Linked DNA regions of Homo sapiens: region 2 is linked to region 1. Evidence: fine-mapped expression QTL. Tissue or cell type: skeletal muscle. Region 1 holds a variant in brackets; the other region holds the start of a gene. All regions are shown on one strand. Distances are from middle to middle.

The links. PIP is the estimated chance that this variant, and not a neighbour inherited with it, causes the effect.
Region 2: SACS-AS1 starts here. The variant in region 1 is fine-mapped to the expression of SACS-AS1 in skeletal muscle (GTEx, PIP 0.99).

Annotation. Positions count from the first base shown.
Region 1 is chr13:23,301,008-23,309,007 of GRCh38, reverse strand. The region is part of intron 6 of SGCG (sarcoglycan gamma); the gene reads right to left. Among named protein-coding and RNA genes, the nearest start is that of SACS-AS1, 110 kb to the left of the region's middle. The variant G/A (reference allele first, on the strand shown) is at 4,398.
Region 2 is chr13:23,414,231-23,422,230 of GRCh38, reverse strand. SACS-AS1 (SACS antisense RNA 1) reads right to left here and starts at 3,260. Exons shown (of 2, transcript NR_103450.1): 1 at 2,930-3,260. The region is part of intron 1 of SACS (sacsin molecular chaperone); the gene reads left to right.

The sequences.
Region 1 (8,000 bases):
TGTGAATAGAGAGATATACCATATTTATGGACAAGAGACTTCACGATTATAAAGGCATGAATTCAGTGTAATTCCAATAAAAAAAAACCAGGAGAGTTTTTCAAAAAACCTGAAAAATTGATTTTAAAATTTACATGAAAAACAGTCCAGGCATGGTAGTTCACACCTGCAATCCCAGCACTCTGGGAGGCCAACGTGAGTGAATCACTTGAGGTCAGGAGTTTGAAACCAGCCTGGCCAACATGATGAAACCGCGTCTCTACAAAAATACAAAAATTAGCTGGACATGGTGGCATGCACCTGCAATTCCAGCTACTCAGGGCGCTAAGGTGGGAGAATCACTTAAACCCAGGAGGTGGAGGCTGCAGTGAGCTGAGATCATGCCATTGCACTCCAGCCTGGATGACAGAGTGAGACTCTGTCTCAAAAAAAAAAATTACATGAAAAATAAATGTCTAAAAACAGCCAATACAACTCTGAAGAAGACATGGTGGGGACACTTGCCCTAGCAGGTACCAGATGCATTGTACAGCTATTAGGGAGATACTGGTTTAAGAAGAAAAAAGCCAGAACAACAGACGAGAATAGGGCACCCATTAAAAATAGCTTTATATATGACAAAAATAGCATTACGGATAAAGAAGGAATGGACTGACTTTTGAGACAACTGGGTATTCCCACTCAGAAAGCAAAAGAAAATTATTTGCCTACTTCACATCCACATGAAAAATAACTTCTTGTCTGATTAAAGAACTGAATACAAAAACAAAAATGTTTTTGAAAGAACTCATTCCCTCCTTAGTGCCCAAGCAGTGGTTTCTAAAACACCCAAGTTCCTGAAAGTTTATTTTCATAGAATACTACAAGGATAAATTAACTTTCATACTGGCCAAATACTCTCCAGAGAAAGATCAGTGTCTATAAATTCATGATTAACCAGTGAAGCATTCACGATCTTCAGCAATCCACTTCTTGTTAGACTTGACCACAACATAATGTAACATTACACATAGGTGTAATGTTGACATTTATAGAGACCCATATGTGGGTTTTTATTTTTATTTTCTCACTTCTCTACGGAATGTTTTTGTACATAAAAACTTGTGTTTTGGTTTAATAATGAACTATGCAAAGATACTACTGTCTATATGTAGTTGTATTTACACAATAAATGCCTGCATTTTAATAGTTATGTATTTATGATATTCTTTATGATTTATGACAATGATGAGCCTTGAAATTAAAGTATTTCACTTGAATTTATGGAATCCATGCTTTTAAATACAGATATAATTTGATACATTGATATTAATATTATTGCCCTATATTTCTTCTCCCATGCATCTGTACTGACTTCTAATATTTTCTTTGAATTGAATCACCTTTCATTAGAACCTTGAAAAAAACCCATACAGTTCTGTAGAACCTATCTCCTAAAAGATGCATAACAGGGCATAGTTCTAAGTACTGCCCACAGCCAGTGCTGGCACCATCCCACAGTAATCCAAATCACTCCTGGGATTTCATTATTTCTGTAAAGTGTACTTCTGTCTTGAAAAAAGATAACTTTTTTTAACTCACGAAAAATATAAAATACACTTCTAAGCTCATCAAGACTGTACTTCACAGAAAAAAAGACTACTAATATCTGAGGTCTACAAGGGAATGGAATGACACTGCAATGAACAGAAATTTGTGAAAGATTATGTTGCACTATAGAGTAACTAATGTCACTCAGATAAGATGGCTATGATTAAACATCTATGACATACCCAATTCAGTCTTCAGGGGAGTCTCAGACTTTTAATTACTGCAGAAGTCAGTGAACTATAAAAGTTCAGTTTGTCCTTAATACCTCTGTTTCAGTAACTTTGTTTAGTATTTTGCATCTTACTTGTTAATCTTAAAAGGAATTAGAAGCTTCTGTTTGTTAAGAAAAAATACTAAATCTTAAAAAGTTCTGTTTAGCTAAAAGAAAATTAAATCTAATATATTTGTAAGTCCTTCTTGAAAAGGGCAACTTATACATTTACATTTGGAGTATTACTTTTCACATAATGTATTTCACATTCTGGATTTAACAGCACTTTATAGCTCAGGAGCCCAAGATGTCATCAGTGAATTCTTGTATGAGCACTGACTGTGCTCTTCTGTTACTGGATGAAACTTTCAATCCTGAAACTGTTTCCAGTTGTTGAATTGATGATATGTACTTTTTTTTCTGACATTTTGTATTTTTTTCCTTTTTCTTGGAATTGCTAGAATTAAGGAAAATAAGCCACACCATAAGTTGTCAGTTACCAGAAGGAATAAATTGTTTTCATTGTTCAAGTTAAGAAGACTTAAGATATTAACTTGTGACAAATAAAATATACATACTTGGAACTAAGGATGTGATTATGCGAACAGTGTTAGATCACTTCAGTGATCACTTGTATTTATAGACATTGATTTTTATCAATGAGCTGTATAAAACCATGAAAACAACAGGAATTTAAAAATTCCTATGAGACTACTTTCAGACCACTACACAAATACAGTTAAAAACTTAGATTAAGTGAATAATTTCCTAGGGAAATACAGTTGGCCAAAATCAACTCCCATTAAAGTTAGAAAGCTTAAACACAATTTTCCATAAAAGAAGAAATACACTATTAATATTAAAACACTGTCTTTAAAAATTTCATCAGGCCCATATGGTTCCAGAGAAAATTCCATCAAACCTTTAGAGACCAGAACATCCCAATACTCCACAAATTATTCCAGAACATTGAAAATGAGGAAAAACTTCCTAATTATTGAACCAAGAGTAACAGGGTTACTTAAACTTTATAATCATAGCATAGCCAGGCACAGTGGCTGACACCAGTAATCCCAGCACTTTGGGAGGTGAGGTGGGAGGATCACTTGAGGCCGGGAGTTCAAGACCAGACTGGGCAACACAGCAAGACCCTGTCTCACAATAATAATAATAATAATAATTGTAGTGCATTCCTGTAGTCCTAGCTACTTGGAGGCTGAGGTGGGAGAATCGCTTGAACCCTGCAGCTGGAGGCTGCAGTAAGCTGAGATCGTGTTCTTGCACTTTAGCCTGGGCAGGCAGCAGAGCAAGAACAAAAAGAAATGCAGACTAATATGAGTTATGTGTATGATATTTCATGGCCAAAGTAGGATTTATTCTCAGAATGCAAGATTGGTTCAGTATTAGAAAATCCATTAATGTAATACCCCATATTAATATATCTAAGAGACATACATGACTATCTCTGTAATTACTAAAGACTGTCTTACTAAATTCAATACCCATTCAACACAAAATAGAAATTGATATGTGCTTTCTTTATAAAACACACATTCACATCATTTTGGTTAATGGAGAAATACCAGAGGCATTTCCACTTTGACTGGAAAAAGGCAGTGATGCTTACTATCTCCATTTCTTTCTCACATTGCATTGAGGACATTGGGAAATCCAATTAGCCAAGAGAAATTGATTAGAGATATTATACTTGGAAAATAAGGTGTAAAACTATACCTATTTGCAAATGATCTGATAGTATACTTGGAAAATCCCAGTGAATCAATCATCAAATGGATCCAAACCATAAAAGGTTTAGTAAGGTAGTGAGATATAAAATTAACACACAGGAATCAATAGCCTTCATATCTAAAACAGTAACAGGGAATAATGATGATGTAATAAACCTCCTTTTAATAGCAACAAATAAATGTGGAAAACACATATGAAGAAAACTTTTCAATGCTCCTGAGAGGTATAGAAGTAGCTTTGAACAAATGGAAAGACACCCCCTGTTCTTGGGTAGATGACTCAACACAGTAAGTTGTCAGTTTTCCCTAAGGTAATTTAAAAACTTAATATAATCCTAATACAAAATAAGTTTTCTGGAAGTCGACAAGTTAATACTCAAGTTCATGTGCAAAAATACATAACCAAGAATAGGCAGACTAATGTTCAATGATGTACAAAGTCTTGTGTGTGTGTGTGTGTGAGCACGTGCACGCCTGTGAGCACGTGCAAGCCTGTGAGCACGTGCACGCATGTGTGCACAACTAGTCCTACCAGACATTAAAATATCTTCTCTGTAATCCCAGCACTTTGGCAGGCCAAGGCGAGTGGATCATCTGAGGCCAGGAGATCGAGACCAGCCTGGCCAACATGGCAAAACCCGGTCTCTACCAAAAACAAACAAACAAACAAACAAACAAAATACAAAAATTAGCCATGCATGATGGCAGGCTCCTGTAATACCAGCTACTCAGGAGGCTGAGGCAGGAGAATCGCTTGAACCCAGGAGGCAGAGGCTGCAGTGAGCTGGGATCCTGCCACTGCACTCCAGCCTGGGCAACAGAGCAAGACTCCATCCGCTCCCCTCCCC[G/A]CCGCCAAAAAAAAAAAGCCTATTTAGTTAACAGACTCCTTACTGGCTCATGAATGGAGAGACCGGTGCAATAGAATTACAATTGCAGGAACAGCCCCAAGTGTATAGAGACATTTGGTGGTAAAGGTTGTATTTCAAATCACACGGGAAAAAGTAGAGTTTGTAATAAATAATCTAGTTGCTGGCACATCTGGTTGGCCAACTGGAAAAGATAAAATTAGAATTAGACCTCACACCTTATACCTCATACCTCACACAATAATCAACTCTAAGTGGATCAGAGGTCTAATTGTAAAAGATAAAGCCATGCAAGAAACATGTTAAATTCAAACTTAAAATCCAGATACAATAAAAAAGATTAATAAACATGAGTATGTAAGCATTAAAAAGTTTGCACAGCATAAAGTACAATAAGTCAAAAACCAACTGAAGCTGGGAAAAATTATTTAAAACATATATCAGGGATGAAGGGCTAATATTCCCAATATTTAAAGAAGTCTTAAAAATTGAGAGGAAAAGTATTTTTAAAAAGTAGAAAAAGACAAACAATTCACAGAAAGGAATACAAAAATGGCCTTTAAACATATGAAAAGTTGCTCCACCTCACTCATATTAAGAGAAATGTAAACTATAATGAGATGTAATTTCTAATCTATCAGATTGGCAAAATTTAAAATATTTAAAACACATTGTGTTGGGAGCCATGGGGAAAGGAAAATAGAATTTATTGTAACAATGCTAGTGTGCAAATTGGTATACCTCAATGGAGGGGAAAGTCACCGAAAGGGGAATTTGGCATTATCTGAGTAAACAATATGTGCATTTATCTTTTTCACCCATGGATTCCTCTTCCAGGAATTTATCATGGAGCTATATCTCCAACAATATGAAAATTTACCTGCACAAGCACATTGTAAATAAATCAGGTGCCCATATATAGGGGAGCAGTTGAAAAACCTCTGATACGTGCATACCTGGGAACTTGTATGTGATTTCCGGAGCTCTTTCCTGGCATATGCCCTCTTCTCTGATCCTGTGCCCCACAGACTCCATTAGCCTCAACTCCCCACTCTCGGATCTCTTTCTCCTCCACTCCCAGAGGTTCCCGTGCACTGACTGGATTCCCCTTCCCTGTGCCCTGATTCTGAACATGCCTGTGGGCAGAGAGCTCGGGCAAGTGTAGGGCTCACCTCATTAGTTTCTGTCTTGTTTTGCACTTCGTGCTATCCAGTGTCTGAAAGTGGTTGTTTCATATATTTGTCAAGTGTTCTCCTGGTTACCAGAGATGGTGCATCCAGTCCCAGTTACTTCATCAGGGGCAGAAGAGGACTGTTGCCCTGAACTGCCAGGCTGGGAGCTTGCAGGGGTTCCCCTTCCCAGATCCTTTTTAACAATCTCCTTCTCCCACTTTATAAAGAAAGACATGCTCATTGATTCTGAATCGATTATGATGTATTACACTGGGGTAGAAATACTTCCAGGGGTAATGTGCAAGGGAAAATTAAAAAATTGGTGACAGAATTGACAAATTGAATGACTACAGTGATTACGAGGTAATCATTTGGCAAGTTACACAGTTTCTAATTCTTTACTTTCAACAAAAATTGAAGAAAGACCTAATGAATTGTCGCCGATAGTCATTACAAATAACTTTTAATGGTGTATATTTAGGGAAGAGTTCAGAACGTAGAGTGACTTTTTAAAAAATAAAACTTTTTGATTCATACCTACTTACTTATGTGAACAGGCTCCTTGGGACATCTACTTAAAAAACAGGAAAGATATTGATGCCTGATCTTGACTCCTTCTATTAATAAGCTATATTTATTAGCAGATCTATCAAATAGTTTTTAAAAAGTTCCAACCATTCACTAAAAGATGTAGTTTTATACAATTTTACTTTTTGTTACTATCAAAAATCTTAATATATTGATTTTTTCTTTTAAAAATTATTTTTAATTGATATGTAATAAATGAACATATTTATGGAGTACAGAGTGATATTTTGATACATATACACAATATGTAATAATCAAATCAGAGTAATTGGCATATTTATCACTTCAAGCATTTATGATTTCTTTATGTTGGGAACATCTGAAATTCTCTCCTTTAGTTATTTGAAAATATACAATAATGGGAGGAGGAGAGGATAGGGAGGGGCTGGCTAATAGATACAAAATTACAACTTACATAGGAAGAATAAGTTCTAGTGTGCTATAGCACTGTAGGGTGACTACAGCTATACTGTTTTGATCAATTGTTTTCTCCTTAAATTATGACTCTATCCAAAAGAAATTTTAAAAATTCTATAGTCACTAGAAGTAATTATATATATAATTATATAAATATATTTCTTGTGGAGAAATAGGATAGAGTGATCAATGAAATACTGTCAATCACTAAGTAGTGTATATTGGGAAAAAATTTTGGGTAAGTGAACTGTAAGTATTAGGTCAAGGACAAAAAGAAAACTTTTCTGACTCCATAAGAAGAGCTTGTTTGTATGTTTTTCAGTTCTTTGATGGTGGGCATCAAATATCCATGCTTCTTAGATTCCATCCGTACGTTTTAAAAAGTAATGAAAATAATTTTATTTCAAAATGATTTATGTTATTTAAACCATAAAAGGTCATCATTGCTAAACTGACTTGGTAAATATTTCCTTTTATCATCAAGTAGTGTTCCCATTGATTTTTTTTCTTTTCTTTTTTTTTTTGAGATGGAGTCTTGCTCTGTTGCCCAGGCTGGAGTGCAGTGGTGTGATTTCAGCTCACTGCAACCTCTGCCTCCCGGGTTCAAGCGAATTCTTCTACCTCAGCCTCCCAAGTAGCTGGGATTACAAGTGTGCACCACTATGTATGCCTGGCTAATTTTTCTATTTTTAGTAGAGACAGGGTTTCTCCATGTTGGCCAGGCTGGTCTCAAACTCCCGACCTCAGGTAATCCACCCGCCTCGGCCTTCCAAAGTGCTGGGATTACAGGCGTGAGCCACCGCGCCGGACCCCATTGATTCTTATTAATGCTATTTCTTTCCTAATTTTGATTCTGTCTGCTATTAATATCGCGATGCCTACTTTCTTTTGGTTAGCATTTCCCTGAACTTTAGGCTGCTCCAAGCCCCATCTTCACCATTCCCTGGCCCAGCCCTGGGATCAGCCACTTCTCTAAGAAGTCCCGGTTCCTTGGAGAATGGTATGAGAAACAAAGTTCTGGGGGCCAGTGATTTTATTTTAATTACTTCATGTCTCATTTCTATAATTTCTATTTTGTTATTTCCCAAATCTGCCATTTTTCAAAATATCTTGTCTTTGTCTTACATTTCTATTCATTTTTTCCCTCATTTCTATTCATTTTTTTCCTCATTTGAGCATTTTATTTATACTTGTTCTAAAAATCTCTTTGCTTTGCTCTATGACATAACAGTTCCAGGAGATTATTTGTAGCAGCTGCTAATTCTAATTCTTCTCCATGGTAGTTCAATTCCTTTTTTTTGAGATGGAGTCTCGCTCTGTCGCCCAGGCTGGAGTGCAGTGGCGTGGTCTCGGCTCACTGCAAGCTCTGCCTCCTGGGTTCACGCCATTCTCCTGCCTCAGCCTCCTG
Region 2 (8,000 bases), 110 kb before region 1:
CCTCTGAAATCTCATTTGTTAGATTCTATAAAATGTGTTAGGAACTTGTTTAATGAAAAGTTACGTTCCATTCAACAATATAATAAGGTACATCACAAAGCTCCTTTGCACATAACTTTTTTCTAGTTAGTAGCATGTTCATATATAGGCCTAATAACCTCTCAAACGTTGTTACTTAGATACTTAGATAATACACCATAGGTGGACGCCCAGGCCGTAGGTAAATACTAGGCCCCAGGTGGAAACCAGGCCCCAGATGGATATCAGGCATCTCGGTGCATGTCTGTTCCCAAGTTGACACATGGGCCCCCGTTGAACACCAGGCCCCACTTAAACTTCAGGCCTCAAGTGGATGTCCAGGCCCCAGGTAAATACCAGGGCCACAGTGGACAGGAAGCCCCAGGTAGACTACAGGCCCCAGGTGGATGCCTAGGCCCCTGGTGAACACCACGCTCCAGGTAGATACCCTGACCCCAGGGCAACATCCAGTTCCCAGTGGACATCAGGCCGCAGGTGGATGCCCAGTTCCCATGTGGACATCAGTCCCCAGGTCAACATCAGGCCCCAGGTGGACACTGGACTTAAGATGTATATCAGGCACCAGGCTCACATCCGTGCCACAGCAGGACACAATGTCACAGGTGGACAGCCATCCCACAGAGGATACCGAGGACTCAGACGGACGTTCAGGCTCAAGGGGAACATAAGACACTATGTAGGCAACAGGCCTGGGTGCATATCAGACCCCAGGTAAATACTCAGGTTCCAGGAGTACAATAGGCTTGAGGTGGATACCCAGGTCCCTGGTAGATACCCAGTCCCCAGCTGAATGTCAATCCTCATGGGACGGCACACTCCACAGGGAAACTAGGTGCCAAGTAAATGCCTAAACCCCTGGTGAATATCAAGCCCCAGGGGTATACCTAGACCAGAGCTGGACATCTGGCCCCAGCTGGACATCCAGGACCCAGGTGGATATCTACACCTCAGGTTGACATCAGGCCCCTGGAGAACACCAGGTTTCAAATGACCACCAGGCCTCAGGTGGCTATGGAAGCCACAGGTGGATATCAGGTACCACGCTCACACCCAGGGCCCAGGCGGACACAAGGCCCCAGAGGAACAACAGGCCCAAGGTGGACAAAGGCCCTAGGTGCACACCAGGTCCTAGGTGGATACCCACACTTTAGGTGGACACCAGGCCCCAGGCAGACACCAGGTGCCAGGAGGATACCCAGGACTCTGGTGGACATTAGGCTCCTGGTGGACACCAACACCCAAGTGGATGTCAGGCCCCAAGTGGGCACTGAGGCCCCAGGTAAATACCCAGGTCCCTGGTCAAAAACAGGTCCCTGATGGACAATCCGGCCCCAGGTGGACATGAGGCCTCAAGTGGACACTTGACTCCAAATGTCTTGGGTGGACACCACTCCCCAGGTGGATACCTGGGCTCCTGATGAACATCAGGCCTCAGGTTCAATCTAGGTCCCATGTGAACATCCAGGCCCAGGAAGTCCTCAGGCACCGGGAAACACTCAAGCCCCAGGTGGACATCCAGTTCCCGACTGACACCAAGGCCTCAGGTGGACACTAGGCACTAGGAGAACTTCAGGGCCCAGCTGAAATCAAGCCCTGGGTGAATACCCAGGCCCTAGCTAAATACCAGGCCCCAGATTTACATTGGGCCACAGGTGGACATTAGGCCCAAGGTACACACTGGATTCTAGGTAGACTTTAGTCCCCAGATTTACATTGGGCCACAGGTGGACATTAGGCCCAAGGTAGACACTGGATTCTAGGTAGACTTTAGTGCCCAGATTTACATTGGGCCACCGGTGGACATTAGGCCCAAGGTAGACACTGGATTCTAGGTAGACTTTAGTCCCCAGGTTCACAGTCACACCTCAGGAAAATACCAGGCCAGGCCCCAGTTGACTGTCAGACCCCATCTAGACACCAGTCCCCACATAGATAATCTATGCCCCATCTGGACATCAGGTTCCAGGTAAACACCAAGTCCAAGATGAAGAGCAGGCCCCAGTTGGGTATCTAATCCATAGGTGGACATGGGGCACCAGATTGACACACAGGCCCAACGTGGATACCCACACCACAGGTGGACATGAGGCCCCAGGTACATACCCAGTCCCCCGGTGACTATCGGGCCCTAGGTGAACACCAGGTCCCAGATGAACATCAGGACCCAAATGGATACCTAGGTCCCTGGGGAACATCAGGCTCCAGGTGGACACCAAGGACCCATGTGGGCAGCTAGGCCCAGAGTGACATCAGGTTCCATGGGGACACCCAGTCTCCAGGTGGATACTGCGTCCCTAGGGGTACACACCAGTCCTCAGTGACCGAATGGTCACATATTCTCTGGCCAAATGCAATAAAATCACCTCCCCAAAGAATATATATTCTTTAAAACTGAAAACTACATTTCTCAATCATTCTGAAGATAAGGAACTCGCAACAGAATGCTGAACACACACAGAAACGATGAAACTCCCACAACCAACACGAGTGCAATGCTGCTCAACTAGTCCGAGAGCAAGACCCACCACAGGCTTTGCATAGAAGACGCACAGATTCGAATGGAAGAAAATGTGGGACCCGAAATTGCAATATAAGAAAAGAGAAAAAGGCAACCACGCACACCAAGAAATCCAAGAAGTAAAGGGTGACATGGAGACATAACACGCCCGGTTTCCCAAGAAACATTAGGAACCACATTGCGAAATGAAATGGCAGGCCCCATCAAGCCCTGTTGAGACTCTGAACTGCAGGCCTCTCCTAGACGGCCTCTAGGCCTACAAATTGCTAAGGCCACCCTTAACACGTCCTACCCACCTTGTAGAAATTCCCCACCACTAGGAAAAGACACTAAAACCCATGTTGGTCCCGAGCTTACCCTGCCAGAGCTTACCTTGCCGAAGCTTCCCGCAGTCCCTGGGTGCCACTAGCTGGCTCTGTGGCTTCCTTGGAGGGCCTGTGGCCTAGGCCCGGTCCCCTCTCTCAGCTCCCGTGCCTGTCCGCCCATGACCCCAGAGGGACGGGCCCCTGGTTCCCTGGCGGAGCTGCCCTGTCGGCTCACACAGGCGCCGGACGGCCGCGCTCTTGCTCCCAGGCACCAGCCCACTCCCACGGGCAGTCGATTGTGGCACTCTCTGGGGCCCCAAGTCCTGCACCTGCCCCAGATCTTCATGCCCTGAGCAGAGAAGCGAGAACATCTTACTCAGCACCAACTGGGCCAAAATGGCGCCTTCCGCACCACGTGTGCAAGAGGGCAAGTTTCCCGTGGTGGGGGAGGGGGCACAGAAACTCCCCACCTACTCTCCTAGGAAGAGGGCGGCGCCCATGGAGACAAACCCATGGGCACCTTGATAGTCACAAATGCAATGCTAGATCAAAAAATGATATTCTGGTCAGGCACCCTGGCTCAGGTCTCTAACCTCAGCACTTTGGGAGGCTGAGGCAGGGGGATCACTTGAGGTCAGGAGTTTGAGACCACCCTGGCCAACATGGTGAATCCCCTCTCTACTAAAAATACAAAAATTAGCTGGGCTTGGTGGCAGGTGCCTGTAAGCCCAACTACTCAGACAGCTGAGGCAGGCAAATCACTAGAACCCAGGAGGCGGAAGTTGCAGTGAGCAGAGATCAGCCACTGCCCTCCAGCTGGAGAGACAGAGCAAGACTCCATGTAAGGTAAAAAAAAGAAATGGGTGCTATACTGAAGCACTCAAATGTGGAAACATCAGATGAGAATTTATATACAAGGGAAACAAACATATATGTCTAAAAATCTTGTATAATGTTAAGCATATAATTATTAAGGAACAAAAAGCACTTCTGTAGTTGAAAACAGTAAAAATTAAGTTGAACTAAATGTATATTACTATTTCATTACAAGCAGAGATAGTCTTTGTATTATATTTAAATGAAGGTATTATCCATATGAAAGATAAATATAAATTAGAGCCTGTTCCCCAATTTCTGCTTTTCTCTTAGGTTGTTTCTTTTTTTATTTTCAAGAGTTCTTTCTATATTCTGAACACAAAACTTTTGCTGATTGCTGTGTGGCAAATATCTTCTATTTTATATAGCTTGCCTTAGGTGAGCAGAAATTCTTAATTTTAATGTAACTTGAATTTTTTTTTTTTTTTTTTTGAGACAGAATCTTACTCCCAGGCTGGAGTGCAATGATGCAGTCTAAGCTCATTGCAGACTGCCTCCTGGGCTCAAGTGATCCTCCCACCTCAGCCTCCCTAGTAACTGTGACTACAAGTGCGTGCCACCATGCCTGGCTAATTTTTGTATTTTTTGTAGAGATGGGGTTTTGCTGTGTTGCCCAGGTTGGTCTCAAACTCCTGAGCTCAGGGGTTCCGCCTGCCTCAGTGTTCCAAAGTGCTGGGATTACAGGTGTGAGCCACCGCACCCGGCCTTGTAGTTTGATTTTAACAATCCTTTCCTTGAGGGTTACTGCTTTCTATTTGTTTTTAAAGGAATTCTTATTTACCCTGAAGCCATAAAGATATTGTGTTCCACTTCCTTCTAAAATTTTTAAGGTTTGATTTTCTCACTTATGTGCTTAATCATCTAGAATTGATACTTGTGCACAGTATGGGGTTCAGATAAATTTTCGTGCTTGTTTCCATATAGTTAACCACTTGCCCCAGTAACATTTTTGGAATGGCCCAGCTTTCCCCCACTAAACCCTGCTGATACCTCTCTCATGTATCAGGTTCTCATTAATGCAAGGGTCTGTCTCTGAGCCTTTTACTCTCTTTGATTGTTCCCATGCGAATGCCACATAATTATTATGGTTTCATGTTAAAGCTTAATATCTTCTAGAGCAAGTCTTCCCTCTTCTTCTTAAGTAGTGTCTTTGGTTATTGTGTTTTTATTCTGCAAGGTTGCTGGGGTTTTGATTCAAATTGCTTTGAATTACAAGATCAATTTGAGGAGAGTTGACATTTCAATGATATTTAATTTTCTGGTTCATCATGTACATAACTCCATTTTTAAAGGGTCTTTTTAATGTCTTTCATTAAAGTTCATAGATTTTCTTCTTAAAATTCCTATGTAAGTTCTTTCATTATAATTATTCCAAGGTAACATTTTTTTCTTGCTTGATAAATGTCTATCATTAACACATACTTTTCTCTTAAACTCTTGCTGGTATGTAGAAATGCAATTTAACTTATATCAGTAATCTTGAAAAAATCTATTATTAACATTGTCAGTTTGTATGAATTTTTTTGAATACTCTATCCATGAATAGTGATGGTTTTGTTCCCCTCTTCCTTCCCCTCCTCCCTGTTCCTCTTTGTTTTTTCTGTCTTGTTCTGGCTGCCCCCTCCAAAACATGCTGAGTAAAAATAGAGATCAAGAAATATCCTTATCACTGCTAAGCATGAGATTTGCCATTTAATTTGCCCTTTAAAAAAGTTCCCTTCTACTTTTTTTTTTTTTTTAAGATGGAGTTTCTTGTTGCCCAGGCTGGAGTGCAATGGCGCGATCTTGGCTCACTGCAACCTCTGCCTCCCGGGCTCAAGCAATTCCCTTGCCTCAGCCTCCCGAGTAGCTGGGACTACAGACATGCGCCACCACGCCCAGCTAATTTTGTATTTTTAGTAGAGACGGGGTTTCACCAAGTTGGTCAGGCTGGCCTCGAACTCCTGGGCCTAAGTGATCTGGCCTCTGTGGCCTCCCAAAGTGCTAGGATTACAGGCGTGAACCACGGTGCCCGGTTGACTTTTTTTCTTTTACCTTAATCAATCTTCCACAAGTTTGCCAATTTTAGTAGTGTTTTTAAGGAATTAACTTTTATTTTTGCTGATAGTCCCCATTGTATCTTTGTTTTCTCTTTCATTAATTCTGCTCTCATCTTTATTTCCTATTTTCTTTGGGTTTATCCCCAAGACATTTTTTCATGAATTCCTTTTTTGAGATGGAGTCGGCTCTGTCCCCCAGGCTGGAGTGCAGTGGCGTGATCTTGGCTCACTGCAACCTCCGCCTAGTGGGTTCAAGTGATTCTCCTGCCTCAGCCTCCCAAGTAGCTGGGATTACAGGCACACACCACCATGCCCGGCTAATTTTTTGTATTTTTTAGTAGAGACAGGGTTTCACCATGTTTGCCAGGCTGGTCACGAACTCCTGACCTCAGGTGACCTAACAGCCTCAGCCCCCCAGAGTGCTAGGATTACAGACGTGAGCCACCACGCCCGGCCTTTTTCCTAAATTCTTAAAATGGATACTTAACTCATTAATTTTTAGCTTTCCTTCCTTCTGGATGAAATCATTAAAGGATATACATTTTCTCATAAATTTACTGATCTCCATTTTTAATAACAAAGAGCAGGTTAAAGACTTAGTGTTTTCAGCAGGCACTTCGATCAGCATTTAATGAGTCATTTTGTATTCATTTTATTTATCTTTAAAGTTATTCTCTATTTGTGGTACTGGGTTTCCATTTATAGTAGATGGAAAGTTTCTTTTCATAATACATTTATTTAATTAAAATATTTTGGGAAAAATAAATATTAAGTAAAGAATAAATAGATGGTGCACAAGTAGGCCAAAGATCACCAAAGTAGTATGTTGTAGCTCAAAAATGAAAAACAAATTATGAGAGTGATTCATCAAGGGCTGTATTTTGAGAAAAGAATGATCTGGGTAACGGCTGCCTTATCACCTTCACATGTATTGGCTCACAGCATACATAATGATTCAATCATGGTAGGTAATTTCTGACAATTATGGAGAGTATGGCAATTTCCAGGGAGATGAACATGTGTAAACGTTCTAAGTTTCCAGGAAAGGAACAATAGTGTTTGGAATTCTAAATTGTGAGTTAGATGTTAATGGCAGAAGTAGTATTAAAATTAAAAGACTGGGCTGGGTGCAGTGGCTCACACCTGTACTCCCAGCACTTTGGGAAGGCTGAGGTGGGTGGATCACCTGAGGTGAGAAGTTCGAGAGCAGCCTGGCTAACATAGTGAAACCCTGTCTCTACTAAAAATACAAAAATTAGCCAGGCATAGTGGTGCATGCCTGTAGTCCCAGCTACTCGGGAGGCTGAGGTAGGAGAATTGCTTGAACCTGGGAGGCGGAAGTTGCAGTGAGCCAAGATAGTGCCACTGCACTCCAGCCTAGGCAACAGAGCGAGACTCCATCTCAAAAAATAAAAAAAAGAAAAGAAAAATAAAAATGAAATTAAAGACTGGATTATTTGAAAGAGATTGCATTCAGAAGGTGTGAGATGAGGACACAGTGATCTCTGAGACCTAGCATGTGTGTATCAAGGACAAGTCATGTCATGTTTAACCCACTTCCCCCTTATTAATGGATGAGACTATCGGACTGGCCAAGCAGTGTAAGTCAGAAGGAAGACTGCAGCTTGGATTAGTAATACATTGGGCAGAATCATCCTATTCTGTTAGAAATGACAGGAATAAATGTGATTGATAACAGTATATTTATAATGGCTAAGAGAGTTACTGAGGAAATATTATCCAAAGATTGATTTTTGTAATAAATGTATCATTGCCCATGGGGAGTAAAATTTAATAATTTGCCACAGAGCTCTATGCTGTTTAGCAGTGTTATCAAACACGCCTGGTGATATGAAGTTAATTAATATTCTACATTACAGAACATGTATTCTTAAAGATATCCACAAACTGGAATTAGAGATTCAGTGAGGTCGACAAGCATGAATGTGCAGTGTTCCACTGAGATCAATACTGCTCTGATTGCCTTCTGATGTTCCTACAGAGGCCGAGCACTAGTGGCAGATAGCCCTGGAGGTCCTGCTTCCAGTGTAACTAATTCCAGATTTCCCTTGAGTTCTGATCTATCATATAAAACCTGCATGTTTTATATTCATATAAACGTGTTTATATTCATACTTTTTTTTCTTTTTGAGACGGAGTCTGGCTCTGTCACCCAGGCGAGAGTGCAGTGGTGCGATCTCTGCTCACTGTAGGCTCCGCCTT